4 linked regions of the Homo sapiens genome follow. The protein of the gene in region 1 interacts with the protein of each later gene in a pairwise test. Each region holds a gene or a part of one and is shown in the gene's direction. Other genes may lie near its edges.

Region 1 (5,361 bases):
TGGACTGAGGGAAGAAACTAGGAGACTGAGGCAAATCTGTGATCCTGGAAGTTCTAGTCCCTCCACAGACTTGGATAGAAACCCTTCAGATTCTGAGTACCTCAGCCCCCTGAAAGAAACTACCAAACGAATGGACCGCAGAGTCATTTGGGAATGGATCTTAGCTGTCAAACATGACATGTAAAGAATTGATCTGCAGATGCAAACTCTACCCAAGTAGTGGGGTCAGGCCTCCCTTGGAGACAGCTCTCGACTCAGCTCTGAGGTCGGACACACTTTACCCTGGCTCTGCCACCTGCTAGCTTGGCGACTTTCCTGTAGTTGCTTTGCCTCTCTGTGCCTCAACTTCCTCATCAGTGAAATAGAGATATGAACAGTAACTAACCCAATGGGTTGGTTGTGAGGATTAAAGCAAATGATGTGTGCAAGGCACTCAGCAGACAAATGGATCCTAATGCGTGTTCCTTCTGCCCTTTTACCTTCTCTATTAACTGGCTCCTAGCTGGGGACACCCATGCAGACTGGTGGGACTTTGCGTCTTCTTGTCTCTGACATGGGTACCTCGTCCTGTGTCTGGAATATAAGCTCCTGAGGACAGAGACCATGTTACATATTTGTTCAATCTCTCCAATTCCTTTTGACTTGCAGGAGAACATCCTTGGGTCGTGCAGTGGAGAGGCACTGGCTCAGAGCTGTGTGTCCTAATCCCAGGTGGGGTCCCAGCTGGTATCCCAGCTCACTGTGTGACCTTAGACCAGCCTCTTTCCCTCTAGAGGCCTCAGTCTTCCTTACTACAAATCCAGGTAACTTTTCTGGACCAGTGCCTACCAATGCTGGATGCCATAGGAATCGTCTAGGGTGCTCCTTAAAAATACAGATTTGAGGTCCACAAGCCTAGATCTTGCTGGAGCAGAATCAAATGCCTGGGTCCCAGTCTGCAGGACTCTCTGCTGATCTAGACACAAAGTTAGCACTCTTCAAAATCATCTGGTTTATCTCATAATGATAACAGTGAGAATGATGAATTAAAGGCAGTTGACTCTTCCAAGAACCACTTACCCCCCACTGCCTGTAGATAAAGGGGATACCAGGGCTCCATAGATGGGATGTGCTTTCAATATCAACTTCTAAGTCAGCTTTCTGAGTGTGATAATCATCCCACCCTTCCAAGCTAAGATTTCATAACAATTGTATTTATTCTTTGGATTTGCTAGCTATAAGATAAAAATATGGCTTAAAATGTGCTCCAAAAGAAGGCTGCCACAAACCATGAGGCCCACCCTTGTGAGAAGAACCTAGGATCCTCAAGGAGAAACATTTAACCTCAAATGCTCCACCCCAAAGCAGCAAGTTGAGAGATACTTCAAATGTGAACATTTATGCTGTTGAGGACAAGTTGAAACTAGCACCTCATATGATTGCTGATTGGTCTAGGAAAATAACCAAGATCTTAAAAATGCTCGTTCCTATGGATCCTATATAACTCGGTTCTGAGGTTCTGACTTAAACAATTTATCTCAAAGAGGGAGAAAAAAGTTCGCAAAATAGTATCCATGATTGTCTCTATTTTGATTGGGATGAGGTACTGCAAACAAATGAAGCTGCATTTTCATTTGCTCATTTTACTTACTGTATATAAGTTATGCTGTAATTAAAAGGGGAATATTTCTGAAAGAGACATTAAAGCCTGTTCTGAAACTTGTCACCTAAAACCCATGGAACCTCATGCAAGTTACTTGCTGTCTGTGCCTCTCATTCCCCATCTGCAAAATGTGAGGGTTAAATGATTGAAGACTAGTTTAACTACTTGGTACACTGCCTGCCACACAGAAAGCTTTCGATAATTGTTCGCCGTTTTTATTATCATTATTGAAACAGCAGCTTGGTAAATAATCTAAATGTTCAGCAATAAGGGCATGATTAAATAATGTTGTGGTCATTAAAATTATTTTAAATTGAGTTTGCATAACACTAGGCAGTGTTTATATTATCCCTTTAGGTAATTTAAGAGAAAAAAGTCAGAATAATGAGATTGAATATAAATCATAACCTCAATTATGTTTAGAAACATGCTAGGAAGAAAGCATGGAAAGAAACACCGAGGTCGTCTCTGGGCATCGAGACAATGGATGGTATTTCTTTTCTTCTTTTAGCTCTCCTTCCTGAGGAGCATAGGGCAGAGCTCTGCATGCCTTGAAGGCAGTCTTTCTGTAAGGGTTGGCCCCGAAGCCTTAGAGCAAGGCAATTTCTCCATTTCAGGCAGTCCCAAGGGGGTAGTGAAAGCGAGGCTGAGGTGGGGACTGGGCCCTCTGTTAGCCAAGGGAGGGCAGTGGGGAGCCTGGCTAGCCACAAGTACCGCAAAGTGCTAAGTTTCTGGGGCAGGCAAGGGAGAGGAACCAATGGTAAGAGACTGCCCGTCACTAACAACACCTTCCCCTTCTCTTTGCAGCTCAACTATAAGGACTGTGAGAAGGCAGTGAAGAAGTACCACATCGATGGGGCTCGCTTCTTGGTAAGCTCTGGCTAGTCCAACACACTGAAACCAAGACTGTTCGGCACTTTTCCCCATGGCTGCAGGGCCAACTGGCCTACCCTTTCCCTGGGGACACCCGAGGATCCCTTTGCTTTTTCCAGAAATTTGGTAGGGCCCCCTCTCTCACTACCTTTCAGGATCCTATCATCCAGAACCCCTCTCTGATCTTCCACTTACACCTTAAGGAGGAATCCAAGTATAGTAAACAAATAATCTGGAAAATCTATTTAAATGCCATCCATCCTTTGAGAAGCCCAAGGGGAAGAAGGACCATATGGGTGAACAGAAGCTTCTCACCTCCAATCTCTCACTCTGGAGCACATACTCATGAGTGGAATAAAGGATGGCATCACCCTCATTGTTTCAATTACTTCCTTCTTTCTCACTACCAAATTCATAAAGCTGATTTTGCATCAAGCACACATGTGATATGGCTGTCTCCACTGTATTATACTTCAAAAAGCTTGAAGTCTAAGACCAAGGTGCAGGTATGTATTAAAGACTAAGCCATTAAAGGGAAAAGGATGCAGCTCTAATGGTGGAGACAGAGGTGCTAGGTTGTGGTCGGGGAGGTGGTTTGAGCATTTTCCCTGAAATGACACCTTTGCCCATGGGTTAAGAAAGACCCTGACTGCACCAATCCATCCTTTCTGGGAACTTTGCTTTACTCTTTGAAAATAAGACTTCAAGGGTCTCATGGGGGTAGATGTTCCTAATTTAAATTCAGAGTGAATAGAGTAAGCTAAGTTGTGTCTCCCTGTAAGACACTGTCAGTAAGGGAACTTGACCATGAGACTTCAGGCCAGTTGGATGAGACCAGAGAGATCACAAGCTCCAGCTTGCCCCCAGAGAACACCAATCCATTTCTTATATTACATCTCTGCTACCAACATCTTCTTGAATTCCTTCAGTGATGGTGAGCTCACCACCACCCACAGTCATCTGCCCCTTTCTAGGCAGCTCTCAAGTCTTGTGCTGAAACTAACCTGTGCTCCTATTGGTCTGAGTTTTGCTTCCAGGTGCCATGTAAGACATGTTTATTCACTGTCCACCTAAATCATTCATTCATTCGCCTATTCGTTCACTTGACAAGCAGTTTCCCGAACTGCTTTTACATACTGGAGAGCATTATAGGTGGTGGGGATAGAGAAATGGCTAAGATGTGATTTCTGCCTTCTAGAAACTTGTTTTATAGCAGAAAGGTATGTTCAGAAAGGCTTCCAACTACCTCATTTGCAGATGAGGAAACACATGCAGAGCTGTGATGTGATTTGTTCTATGTCACATACCTACTAATTGAACTAAGGCATACACTTAATTTAGTCTGATACCATTTGACTTTTTAACAGTATTATTTATTTGTATTGAGATTTGAGTCAGTAGAATTCCTGGAGCTTTAGTGCCATTCTTGCAAATTACTGCTAAACCCAAATATTTCATTCTGGTGCTATTAGCACTGAGAACAGAGACTTATCACAGTTGAATGGAAAGGGAGGAAGACATCTTTGAGGATGGTGCCTACGACGCCCTGTTGCCTGGGTCACCCTGAGCAAGTACTTGCCCTCTCTGAGCCTGCCTTGCTTCCTACCCTGTTGACTGAGCACATTGGACTGGGTCATAGTGGGTGATGGCCCCTCCCGGCTCTGTAATTCCCCACAACAGTCCTGGTGCGAGTGTCAGGCCTGGTAGAACAGGGTTGTTTGAGAGATGGTATCTAGGCAGCTATGTTTCCTCTGCTCCAATCAGTCCTCTATCAGTCCTTCAGACAATGTGGCACATTCTGTTCATTGTATGAAGAGGAGGAAGTGCAAAGTAGGGTGATAGGAACCAGAAGAAAAGAAGAAGAATCCAGTGCCTGTCCCTGCAACTGGGGGATGTAAAGGCAGCTTCTGCTGAAACCCACCCTCCACCCCTAGTGCACTGGGTACAATTTGGGACGCTTGATCTAAGCTCTAATTACTAATCTATCACCCTTTCCAGCTCTGTAATATCCAGGGCCACTCTGCTATTGAAGGCAAAAGTGAAAGGCCCTAGTTATTTTTCCTTCCTTCCTTCCTTCCTTTCTTCCTTCCTTCCTTCCTTCCTTCCTGCCTTCTTTCCTTCCTTTCTTCCTTCCTCCCTTCCCTTGTCCTCCCCTCTCCCCTTCCCTTGTCCTCCCCTCTCCCCTTCCCTCTTTTCCCTTCCCTTTCCTTCCCTGTCTTCTTTCTTCTCCCTCTCTTTCTTTTCTTCCTTCCTTCCCTCTCTCCATCTCTCTTTCTTTCTCTCTTTCTTTCTCTCTTTCTTTCTCTCTTTCTTTCTTTCTTTCTTTCTTTCTTTCTTTCTTTCTTTCTTTCTTTTCTTTCTTTCTTTCTTCTTTCTCTCTCTTCTTTCTTTACTTCTTTGCCATTTTTGTTTTCCACTGAAAAGGTTAGATCCTTATCTGGTAGAAGCTATGCTTCTAGAAGTTATAAAAAGAAGAGAAAAGGAGCTTGAGACTTGTGTCAGTTGGGAAGGCATGTGACCCCATGTTGCAGAAACCTGACCACAGTGGCCTAACCAAATAAAGGTCAGTCTGTTTCAAGTAATAAATGTATAGGCGGGTGCCAGGGGATGGTGAAAGAAGACATCAAGAACCCAGGCTTCATCTAACCGATGGAAAAAGCCTGTGGCTTCTGTCCTAACAGTTGTCAGTTGGCTACTCCACCTTTAGGCATCATATCTCCATGGCAGGCAGGGAGACGGGGAGAAAGGCAAAGAGGAGAAGGTGTATGGTGAATGGTAAATGCATGCTCCCTTTTTTCCAGGGAAGTAGTAACTTTTCCAGAAGCTCCATCCAGCAGACTTTGGTT
Region 2 (3,500 bases), on another chromosome or scaffold:
ACAGATGTGCACCACAGGTGGCTAATTTTTTTTTTTTTTTTTTTTTTTTTTTTTTTTGCAGACACGGTCTCGCTATGTTGCTTAGGCTGGTCTCAGACTCCTGGCCTCAAGCAATCTTCCCGCCTGGGCCTCTCAAAGGCTGGGATTCCAGGCGTGAGCCACTGTGCTGGCCCTGTGACATGTTTTTATGGATAAAATAGATCAATTTAATTCTCAACTTTAAGTAACTTCGCAACTACAGGAGGCAGCTGCCAGCAACCGTATTTTTCTCATGGTAATTACAGTTTGTAAGCACTGTCCATGTGTCGTCCCCTTGTATTTAACCGCCAGAGAAACTGCGTGGAAATCCCGGTAGGCTAGGGAGTGTGGTGGTGCCCAAGTGCCCTGCGCCACTGAGCCTTGCTGTGTCTCCACAGGCCTCGGCAAGACGCGCAGGAAGACCAGCGCGCGGGATGCGTCCCCCACGCCCAGCACGGACGCCGAGTACCCCGCCAATGGCAGCGGCGCCGACCGCATCTACGACCTCAACATCCCGGCCTTCGTCAAGTTCGCCTATGTGGCCGAGCGGGAGGATGAGTTGTCCCTGGTGAAGGGGTCGCGCGTCACCGTCATGGAGAAGTGCAGCGACGGTTGGTGGCGGGGCAGCTACAACGGGCAGATCGGCTGGTTCCCCTCCAACTACGTCTTGGAGGAGGTGGACGAGGCGGCTGCGGAGTCCCCAAGCTTCCTGAGCCTGCGCAAGGGCGCCTCGCTGAGCAATGGCCAGGGCTCCCGCGTGCTGCATGTGGTCCAGACGCTGTACCCCTTCAGCTCAGTCACCGAGGAGGAGCTCAACTTCGAGAAGGGGGAGACCATGGAGGTGATTGAGAAGCCGGAGAACGACCCCGAGTGGTGGAAATGCAAAAATGCCCGGGGCCAGGTGGGCCTCGTCCCCAAAAACTACGTGGTGGTCCTCAGTGACGGGCCTGCCCTGCACCCTGCGCACGCCCCACAGATAAGCTACACCGGGCCCTCGTCCAGCGGGCGCTTCGCGGGCAGAGAGTGGTACTACGGGAACGTGACGCGGCACCAGGCCGAGTGCGCCCTCAACGAGCGGGGCGTGGAGGGCGACTTCCTCATTAGGGACAGCGAGTCCTCGGTAAGTGCGCTGCGCCCACAGCTCCGGCTGCAGGCAGTAAATGCGCCTTGCGCGGTGGGTCTGTGTGCCGCGCCCTTTTCACATTGTGTGAGTACACTAGAAAGAGCGGGAGACGCAGATGAATGCAATTTAGTATAATGTTTGCTACTCCGTGATTTACTTGCATCTGTTTTGGGGATAGTGGGTGTCCATTTCTGGAGGTGGGAGATTAACTAAAAAGATGTTTTTAGCTCACAGAGGTGGTTCTGCTTCTCTCCCAAGATTCCCCCTCTTGTATTTCACAGGCTCAAACATCATTTTCTCTCCTGGTTGCCCATTCTGTGTACGTAGAAGGCCCGAGTGATTTACTTTGTTTCTATTCGGTCTGTGTCCCAGAGAAAGCATTCTTTGCAAGACTGGTGGCTGGTTTCTGACACCTCCTTTTGTTGTTTGCTTGCTTTCTCTTTGTAAACCATATAATCCCAAGGTCATTGCCACGGCAGGCAGCGCCACTGAGTTCATCTCTCAAAAGCTTTTAAAGCACTTACGAGATAAATTGAAAAGAAAACAGGGGTTCTTGGGAGAGATGAGTTTTGTTTGTGTGCAGTGAGTCGGAGATATGAGGCCACTCGACTGGGGCAGCAGACCCAGTTCAGCGGTGGGCAGGCTGGGGGCGGTGAGTTTCAGGCATGGGGTCAAGCCTGCATCCCAGAAGGCAGGCTTTTCGTGTGTGAAGGAAATACTCGACCAGTTTTGCAAACGTCTTTCCGAATACACCTTCTACAATCGAGAGACTTCCAAAACAAGCATTTAGGAGATAGAGTTTAATGTATTTGAATTGTATTGGTTCTAGGAGGCTTCAATTTCATTTTTAAATGCACGCTATAAGACTAGTAAGTATGTACTACCTGCTGCCACTGCTGTCCTCTGAAAAGATTACTGGCACAATGAATAAGTGCTCATTCAAGGGTCCTGTTGACTGATCAGAGAGGCATTCAAAGCCCTCCAGAGAGAGGCGACTGGGATGTGCTCTCTTTGAGGACGGAGCATCGTGGTGGTGGAAACTGGACTCCTTTATGGTGTCATCAATTTTGCGGAGCCTTACATGTGCTTGGACGGGAATGCCAGGCTGAAAGCTAACTTCATCTGAAATCTGAACTCTGAGATTTATCAAGTCACCAGAGTTTATCATTCCTGGCAAGACATCACATTGAATTGTTCTCACATGACGAGAGCTCTGTGCACCACTTCTTTTAGATCGTGTTTGAAGCCTTAAGCAAATTAAGGACAGCAGCGCTTTTAACTCAATCGAGCAGAAACTTAGAGAAAGCGCTGGAAAACCAATTACAATATTAAGTGCTTGGTCCAGAGTCCTTAAGGGCTAAGTATAATGCACAAAATATGATCTTGGCTTAAAATTTTTTGAGTTTGAGGAGACTTCTCAGAAGGAAGTCCTGCAGTGTGGAGACATTGGTCCCAGTCATTATTCTTTCTGCCTAAGATTTGGGGAAAAGAGGAAAGACTTTAGAGGGTAGATGAAAAAGGTGTTCTCCGGGGTTGCTGGCCTTAGGGAGGACCTATGGCTTTTCTGTGGAACATGCACAGGTGGTCATTGCTGTCTGAATTCAGGGACCAAGTCCCTTTGGATAAGGAGGGATGCATGCATTGTCTGGGTTTCATCTCAGAACTCTGCACCCCACTGTCTCAGTTGTCTTATATTGTTAGAGAATGAGCTAACTTTTTCTAAAGAACTAAAGCACGAATTGTTTGTATTTCCTTTTAACAGTTTTTTAATGGGGGCCTTTCAGGGTTTTTTGCATTCTCTCCTAACTTAGAAAGTCAAGGAACAACATATATGATTCTAGGAATATAGGGCGGAAAGAGCTTTACTGGGACTTGCATCGGCTCTGCACACATAGCAGCACCGTCTTTGTCTGAGGTTCCACGTGGCCTGATGCTGTGCAGGGCAGCTTGTCCTGATGGATCTTGCCGTGACACGGGCCATTTTCAGCTGTTAGTGTGCATGCCTTGTTCCATGGGGATTCTGCAAGAGCCCTGAGGTGTGTGTGTGGCTTCTTTTCTCCTGACAGCAGAACCATGCCAGGTTTGCTGTATTTCCTGTTCATAACCAAGGCGTTCTCAGCTGTCATCTGTGACTACCAGGGACCTGTCCTGGTGGACAAGTGGACAAGTCCTTTGCTTGTTTTTTTCCCACCATCCACTGCCTCCCCCCGTCCCCATGTGTTTTCCTGCTCATTTTGGCATTTCTCAGGTTAGAGCTGGCTTTCGCAGCCACCACTAGGCCACCAAGAGCCCTTAGGTTCATGATCTGACATAATTCCTTCGCAGCATGCCAGGATGGAAAGGTTTCTGAGGGGTTCAG
Region 3 (3,500 bases), on another chromosome or scaffold:
AGGCCCTTGTGATTTCTCTGGGGAAAAGGAGGACTGGAGTTGATCATTTATTGAGGCCATCAGAAGCGGATGGCTAATTACATATGGGACATGTGTTAATAATGCTTTGTGTATATAGAGTGGCCTTTACTTTCAAAACACTCTTCTCCAATTTATCATGTTAAAAGCTAGGAATTGGGCTGGGTGCAGTGGCTCACGCCTATAATCCCAGCACTTTGGGAGGCCAAGGCGGGTGGATCATTTGAGGTCAGGAGTTTGAGACCAGTCTGACCAACATGGTTAAACTCCGTCTCTACTAAAAATACAAAATTAGCCAGGCGTGGTGGCACACACCTGTAGTCCCAACAACTACTTGTGAGGCTGAGGCAGGAAAATCATTTGAACCCAGGATCAGAGGTTGTGGTGAACTGAGATTGCACCATTGCACTCCAGCCTGGGCAACAAGAGCAAAACTCTATCTCAAAAAAAATAAAAAATAGCCAGGCACGGTGGCTCATGCCTGTAATCCTAGCACTTTGGGAGGCAGAGGTGGGCAGATCACCTGAGGTTAGGAGTTCGAGACTAGCCTGGCCAACATGGTGAAACCCCATCTCTACTACAAATACAAAAATTAGCTAGGCATGGTGGCAGCCACCTGTAATCCCAGCTACTTGGGAGGCTGAGGCAGGAGAATCGCTTGAACCCGGGAGGTGGAGGTTGCAGTGAGCCAAGATCGGGTCACAGCACTCCAGCCTAGGCAACAGAGCGAGACTCCATCTCAAAAAAACATAAATAAATAAAAATAAAAATAAATAATAAATAAAAGCTAAGAATCAAAGAAGCAGTTTATTCCTAATTTCACAGTCTCATCTGTTCATAGTGGGGCCAGGATTAGAGTCAGTGGCCAAGCTTCCATCCTGGGTTCTTTCCCTTCCCAGGCCCTACCATCATAGTATACCAGGGAAAGACCTGGAGAAGCCAGCAGGTTGACCACCGAACCAAGGCTGGGCCACCTTCCTCCTGGGTCTGGTCTCCAGCCTCCCAGTTGTACCCTTCCCCCAGCCCTTCCTGGATGCACTGATCAGCCTGTGCTTCCTTGCCCTGTTTTTCTTTATAAATAGAGCCATGTTCTCCTCTCTCTCTCTCTCTTTTTTTTTTTTTTTTTTTTGAGATGGAGTCTTACTCTGTCACCCAGGCTGGAGTGCAATGGCACGATCTCAGCTCACTGCAACCTCTGTCTCCCAGGTTCAAGCAATTCTCCTGCCTCAGCCTCCCGAGTAGCTGGGATTACAGGTGCCCACCACCATGCCCAGCTACTTTTTGGATTTTTAGTAGAGACAGGGTTTCACCATGTTGGTCAGGCTGGTCTTGAACTCCTGACCTTAGGTGTTCTGCCCGCCTCAGCCTCCCAAAGTGCTGGGATTACAGGCGTGAGCCACCACGCCTGGCAAGACGTGTTCTCTCTATGTTGTTGAGGCTGGTCTTGAACTCCTGGCTGCAAGAGATCTTCCTGCCTCAGCCTCCCAATGTGCTGGGATTATAGGCATGAGCCACCACACTTAGCCCAGCCTGTGCTTTCTTAAATGAAAATCTAAGCATACGGCTGGGTGTGGTGGCTCACGCCTGTAATCCCAGCATTTTGGGAGGCCAAGGTGGGCAGATCACGAGGTCAGGAGATCGAGACTATCCTGGCCAACATGGTGAAACCCTGTCTCTACTAAAGATACAAAAATTAGCTGGGTGTGGTGGCCCATGTCTGTAGTCCCAGCTACTCGGGAGACTGAGGCAGGAGAATGGCATGAACCTGGGAGGCAGAGCTTGCAGTGAGCTGAGATCGCGCCACTGCTCTCCAGCCTAGGTGACAGAGCGAGACTCCATCTCAAAAAAAAAATAAAAATAAAAAAAAGAAAATCTAAGCGTGGTGCTCCCCTGCTCAAACATCCTCAGGTTCTTTTCATGGCAGATAAGGGCATCTCTTCATGAGCCAGCCCCTGCCTACTGACCCAGCCACCTCTCCCATCCCTTCCCACCCCGTACTTCAGGCTTCAGCAGTACTGATCTTTCCAAAGACCCCAGAACACACATGCCTTCATACCTCTGTGCCTGTACATGCTTGTTTCTGCCCTTGAAATCATGACAGTAGCTCTCTGTAGGCCCCGCTAGCCTGTCCCTTGGGTCTTAGCCTCTTGGAGGCCTTCCCAGAGCCCCCCAAAAGTACCCCAGGCATACTTTGGTTCCTTCTCTCATGTCCCCTCAGTACTTTGCACATACCTCCTTTATAGCAGTTGCTATGTTGTGCCAGAGAAGGGAGTCCTGTGGCTGGGGGGCATATATCTTTTCTTTTTGAGACAGAGTCTAGCTGTGTCACCCAGGCTGGAGTGCAGTAGTGCGATCTCGGCTCACTGCAACCTCCACCTCCTGGATTCAAGCGATTCTTGTGCCTCAGCCTCCTGAGTAGCTGGGACTACAGGCGTGTGCCACCATCATGCCTGGCTACTTTTTTGTATTAGATATATATTTTCTCTCTTAGCACAGTACCTACCAAGAGTGAGTGAGTAGATGTCCTGACCCCTGCAGGCATCCAAGGCCCTCCTTCCCTGGACCTGTTTCCACATGTGTGAAGGGGTGCACAGGCAGCAGCCCACCTCTCAGCTTCCTTCCAGTTCTTGTGTTCTGTGACCCCTTTTCCTCATCTCTGCCTGCTTCCTCACAGCTTGAGGCAGCCCTAGGTGAGGCCAAGAAGCAACTTCAGGATGAGATGCTGCGGCGGGTGGATGCTGAGAACAGGCTGCAGACCATGAAGGAGGAACTGGACTTCCAGAAGAACATCTACAGTGAGGTGGGGACTGTGCTTTGCAAGCCAGAGGGCTGGGGCTGGGTGATGACAGACTTGGGCTGGGCTAGGGGGGACCAGCTGTGTGCAGAGCTCGCCTTCCTGAGTCCCTTGCCCTAGTGGACAGGGAGTTGGGGGTGGCCAGCACTCAGCTCCCAGGTTAAAGTGGGGCTGGTAGTGGCTCATGGAGTAGGGCTGGGCAGGGAGCCCCGCCCCTGGGTCTTGGCCTCCCAGGAACTAATTCTGATTTTGGTTTCTGTGTCCTTCCTCCAACCCTTCCAGGAGCTGCGTGAGACCAAGCGCCGTCATGAGACCCGACTGGTGGAGATTGACAATGGGAAGCAGCGTGAGTTTGAGAGCCGGCTGGCGGATGCGCTGCAGGAACTGCGGGCCCAGCATGAGGACCAGGTGGAGCAGTATAAGAAGGAGCTGGAGAAGACTTATTCTGCCAAGGTGCTTGCTCTCGATTGGTTCCCTCACTGCCTCTGCCCTTGGCAGCCCTACCCTTACCCACGCTGGGCTATGCCTTCTGGGGATCAGGCAGATGGTGGCAGGGAGCTCAGGGTGGCCCAGGACCTGGGGCTGTAGCAGTGATGCCCAACTCAGGCCTGTGCCTCCACCCCTCCCAGTCACCACAGTCCTAACCCTTTGTCCTCCCCTCCAGCTGGACAATGCCAGGCAGTCTGCT
Region 4 (3,500 bases), on another chromosome or scaffold:
ACCACAAATCCCTAAATTCAGGCTAATCTTCCACTCTCAGTACCCTACAGATACTTATCCGTTTTGACCTTGCTGCTGATTTAATATTCATGACTCAGCAAACTTGGGATGGGTCAGGGAGTATTTACACTGCTTCTGGAATTGTACATTTGGGAAGGTCCCTTTCTCCTCTCTCAGAATTGGGCCCTGTTGTCAGTTTTCTTTTCTTTCTTTTCCTTTTTTTTTTATTTGAGACAGGGTCTCCCTCTGTCATCCAGGCTGGAGTACAGTGGCGTGATGTCGTCTCACTGCAGCCTCCGCCTCCCAGGTTCAAGTGATTCTTGTGCCTCAGCCTCCCGAGTAGCTGGGATTACAGGTGTGCAACACCATGCCTGGCTAATTTTTGTATTTTCAGTAGAGACGGGGTTTCGCTATGTTGGCCAGGCTGGTTTCTGACTCCTGACTTCAAGAGATTCGCCCGCCTTGGCCTCCCAAGGTGCTGGGATTACAGGCGTGAGCCACCACGCCCTCCCGTCAGTTTTCTTAAAGGATAAAATATTAGATCTGGGATCTAAGTTATTTTGTAGCTATCTGAAAATTAAGTTTGTCAGAATTTACTCTTTTTTTCCGTCCTTTTTTTTTTCATGTCAGACTGGCATCCGTAACAAGGGTTGAGGGAGGCATACCTCACCGTGAGCTTGAAACCGCAGTCATCATGCTTAAGACGTACAAAATGGCTTAAGACGTACAAAATGGCCTAATGTATTTTATTCTTTAAGTTGTACTCTCCCAAATGAAGTATTCACCGTCCAGGGCGCAATCTTCCTACTCCAAACCTCATCTGGATATCCTAATCCCCATTCCTTTCTTAATCAACATGGCATCCTCAGCTTCAGTACTTGGTTTTTACTCAGACTGTTCCTGCTCTTCTCCTAGAACCCCCTCCTTTGCTTTGGGAGTCTAGAACTAGAAGACGGTGAAGGTGGGGACCAATTTTATATCTTCTAATTTGAGGAAACCAAAGTACCTAGGAACCTGGGGCTCTCTCTTCCTCTGCTGGCTTGGTGCCAGGCTCCAGAAGCCAAAGCCAGGTGATGCTATGGCCACTGAATCAAGTTATCCTCTGGATCTAGGTGGCTCCCTAATACATTCCACCCACCTGCTCTTGCCTTCACCTGCTTATTTTCACAATGAGCGTAGACTGAGCAGAACTTGGGGCTCACTTCCACCACAGATACCCTTGGAGAAAAAAACTAGTATGGGATGAATGGGTGGAATTTAGGAGCAGAGACAGGATTGGAATATGAAGTTGGGGACAGAGCTAGTTTTGGAGACTAATTGAAGGAAAAAGACCCTGGAAATATAAGGGTTGAGTGAGATTTGGTTGAACTGCTGAGTAATGTGAGAGATTACTCCATTCTGAGCTTTGCATTTCTGCCTTGGAAGTCATGGTAGCTGGGAAAACTAGGGTAATATTGCTGCTCACCCTGGGGCCAAGCCTAACATGGTGGAGGAGAATTGGATTACACCATAGGCATAGCCGATTTGAATATATCTAGGAGTAGAAATCTCTCCACAAAAGCAGTAAATTAGTGATTCTCATCTCTGTCTCTTTTCCACTTCTTTCTGTCAGTGTAACTCCTGCCTTGATAAACTACTTCTAAGGCTTGGAGTAGACATTTTGGGTAAAGAACTGGATAAAGTCAGCGGAAGAGGCTGGTTGGAATAATTCTAGAAATCCAGACGACCCTGCAGCCTCTGCCTCCTGGCTTCAAGTGATTCTCATATCTCAGCCACCCTGAATAGCTGAGGTTACAGCCATGTGCCACCACGCCTGGCTAATTTATATATATGTGTGTGTGTGTGTGTGTATATATATACATACATGTATACATATACATGTATATATATATGTATACATATACATGTATATATATATGTATACATATACATGTATATATATGTATACATATACATGTATATATATACATATACATGTATATATACATATATATGTATGTGTATATATATGTATATGTATACATATATATATAGTAGCAATGGGGTTTTGCCATATTGGCCAGACTGGTCTCGAACTCCTGGCCTCAGCTGATCTACCGACCTCGGCCTCCAAGTGTTGGGATTACAGGGAAAAGAAGAGGGAATGGATAAAATATTAGTGGTTGTGGGAGTGGGGAGGACACTTGAGCAGGAGCTAAGGGAAGAACCCAAAAGGGAAGAGAGACCCAGGCAAGTAGAAGTAAAAGTGCCTCAGAAGACTTGAATGGAGAACAGTAGGAGTTGGCATTAAACCTGAATGAACATGCTCATAACTCAGGTTCTTTTTGAAAAAGGAAAAAAATCTGAATGAAGAGTAGAAAAAACATTTCTGGAGAAGAGAATGTCAGAGAAAGAAAAAGCATGGGTAAAAAAGAGGCCAGGAAGTACCAGTAGTAATTAAAGCCTTGGGCAGTAGTAAGGCTCTAAGAAAGAACATTCAGTCAAGAATGATCTTGACTGACTGCAGCCTCTATAGCAAGACATATCCCTAAAGACGAGAAAGGTGGCTTGTATGAAGAGTGAAATGCAGGCTTAGATTTTCCCATCGTAAGGAAATAGCAATCTGGTAAGTGTTTGTGATTGATTAGTTCTATGAGGTGGGAGCTGTGCATTTGCCAAGGGCATTTTTGGTGTTTTCTCTCCTAAGCTTAGCCTTTGTCCCTAGCAGCAAAGCTCATGAATAGTTCTTGTGTATTAGCCTTTTGAAACCTCTAATTCTTTTATTTTTGTTTATTTATTTTGTTTTTTGAGTCACGGTCTTGCTGTGTTGCCCAAGCTATGGAGTGCAGTGGTGCAATCACAGCTCATCACAGCCTCGACCTCCCTGGCTCAAGTGATCCTCCCACCTTAGCCTCCTAAATAGCTGGGACTACAGGCACAAGCCATCATACCCTGCTAATTTATAAATTTTTTGCAGAGATGAGGTTTCCCTGTGTTGTATGGGCTCTCTAATTTTTTTAAAAAACATCTTTATTGAGCTGAAATTGACATACAACAAAGTAGACATATTTAAAGTGTGCCATTTGTTAAGTTTTGACATGTATGTAACTGAGTCCATCACTGCAATCAAAGGAATGAACATTTCTGTCACTCCCAAAAGTCCTCCATCAACTACCAATCTTCTGTCATTATACATTAAATTGCCCTTCCTGATTTTCGATAGAAATGAAAAGGCAGTTCAATTCAGCTAAGAAAGGATAGTCTTGTCTTTTCTTTTCTTCTTTTCTTCTTTTTTTTTTTTTGAGGCAGAGTTTGCCCTGTTGTCCAGGCTGCAGTGCGATGGCATGATCTTGACTGACTGCAGTCTCTAACTCCTGGCTTCAAGTGATTTTCATGCCTCAGCCACCCTGAATAACTGAGGTTACAGCCATGTGCCACCACGCCTGGCTAATTTATATATTATTATTATTATTATTTTTTTTTTTTTTTAGTAGCAATGGGATTTTGCCATATTGGCCAGA

Evidence for each region. The genes of interacting proteins can lie anywhere in the genome.
Region 2: the proteins of LCP2 (region 1) and NCK2 interact in binary tests that used the Homo sapiens proteins (3 or more experiments, as listed by UniProt).
Region 3: the proteins of LCP2 (region 1) and LMNA interact in a two-hybrid assay, tested with the Homo sapiens proteins (one large-scale study listed by BioGRID).
Region 4: the proteins of LCP2 (region 1) and FXR2 interact in binary tests that used the Homo sapiens proteins (3 or more experiments, as listed by UniProt).

The regions. Positions count from the first base shown.
Region 1 is NC_000005.10:170,290,461-170,295,821, reverse strand, and holds part of LCP2 (lymphocyte cytosolic protein 2), read left to right. Parts: intron 1-2,449; coding exon 2,450-2,512; intron 2,513-5,361. UniProt on the Homo sapiens protein: Adapter protein primarily involved in signaling pathways within T-cells, as well as other immune cells such as platelets, mast cells, and natural killer (NK) cells.
Region 2 is NC_000002.12:105,880,912-105,884,411, forward strand, and holds part of NCK2 (cytoplasmic protein NCK2), read left to right. Parts: intron 1-416; coding exon 417-1,138; intron 1,139-3,500. UniProt on the Homo sapiens protein: Adapter protein which associates with tyrosine-phosphorylated growth factor receptors or their cellular substrates. Maintains low levels of EIF2S1 phosphorylation by promoting its dephosphorylation by PP1.
Region 3 is NC_000001.11:156,131,711-156,135,210, forward strand, and holds part of LMNA (lamin), read left to right. Parts: intron 1-2,692; coding exon 2,693-2,818; intron 2,819-3,094; coding exon 3,095-3,265; intron 3,266-3,476; coding exon 3,477-3,500.
Region 4 is NC_000017.11:7,608,398-7,611,897, reverse strand, and holds part of FXR2 (RNA-binding protein FXR2), read left to right. Parts: intron 1-624; exon of another isoform or gene 625-717; intron 718-3,500. UniProt on the Homo sapiens protein: mRNA-binding protein that acts as a regulator of mRNAs translation and/or stability, and which is required for adult hippocampal neurogenesis. Specifically binds to AU-rich elements (AREs) in the 3'-UTR of target mRNAs.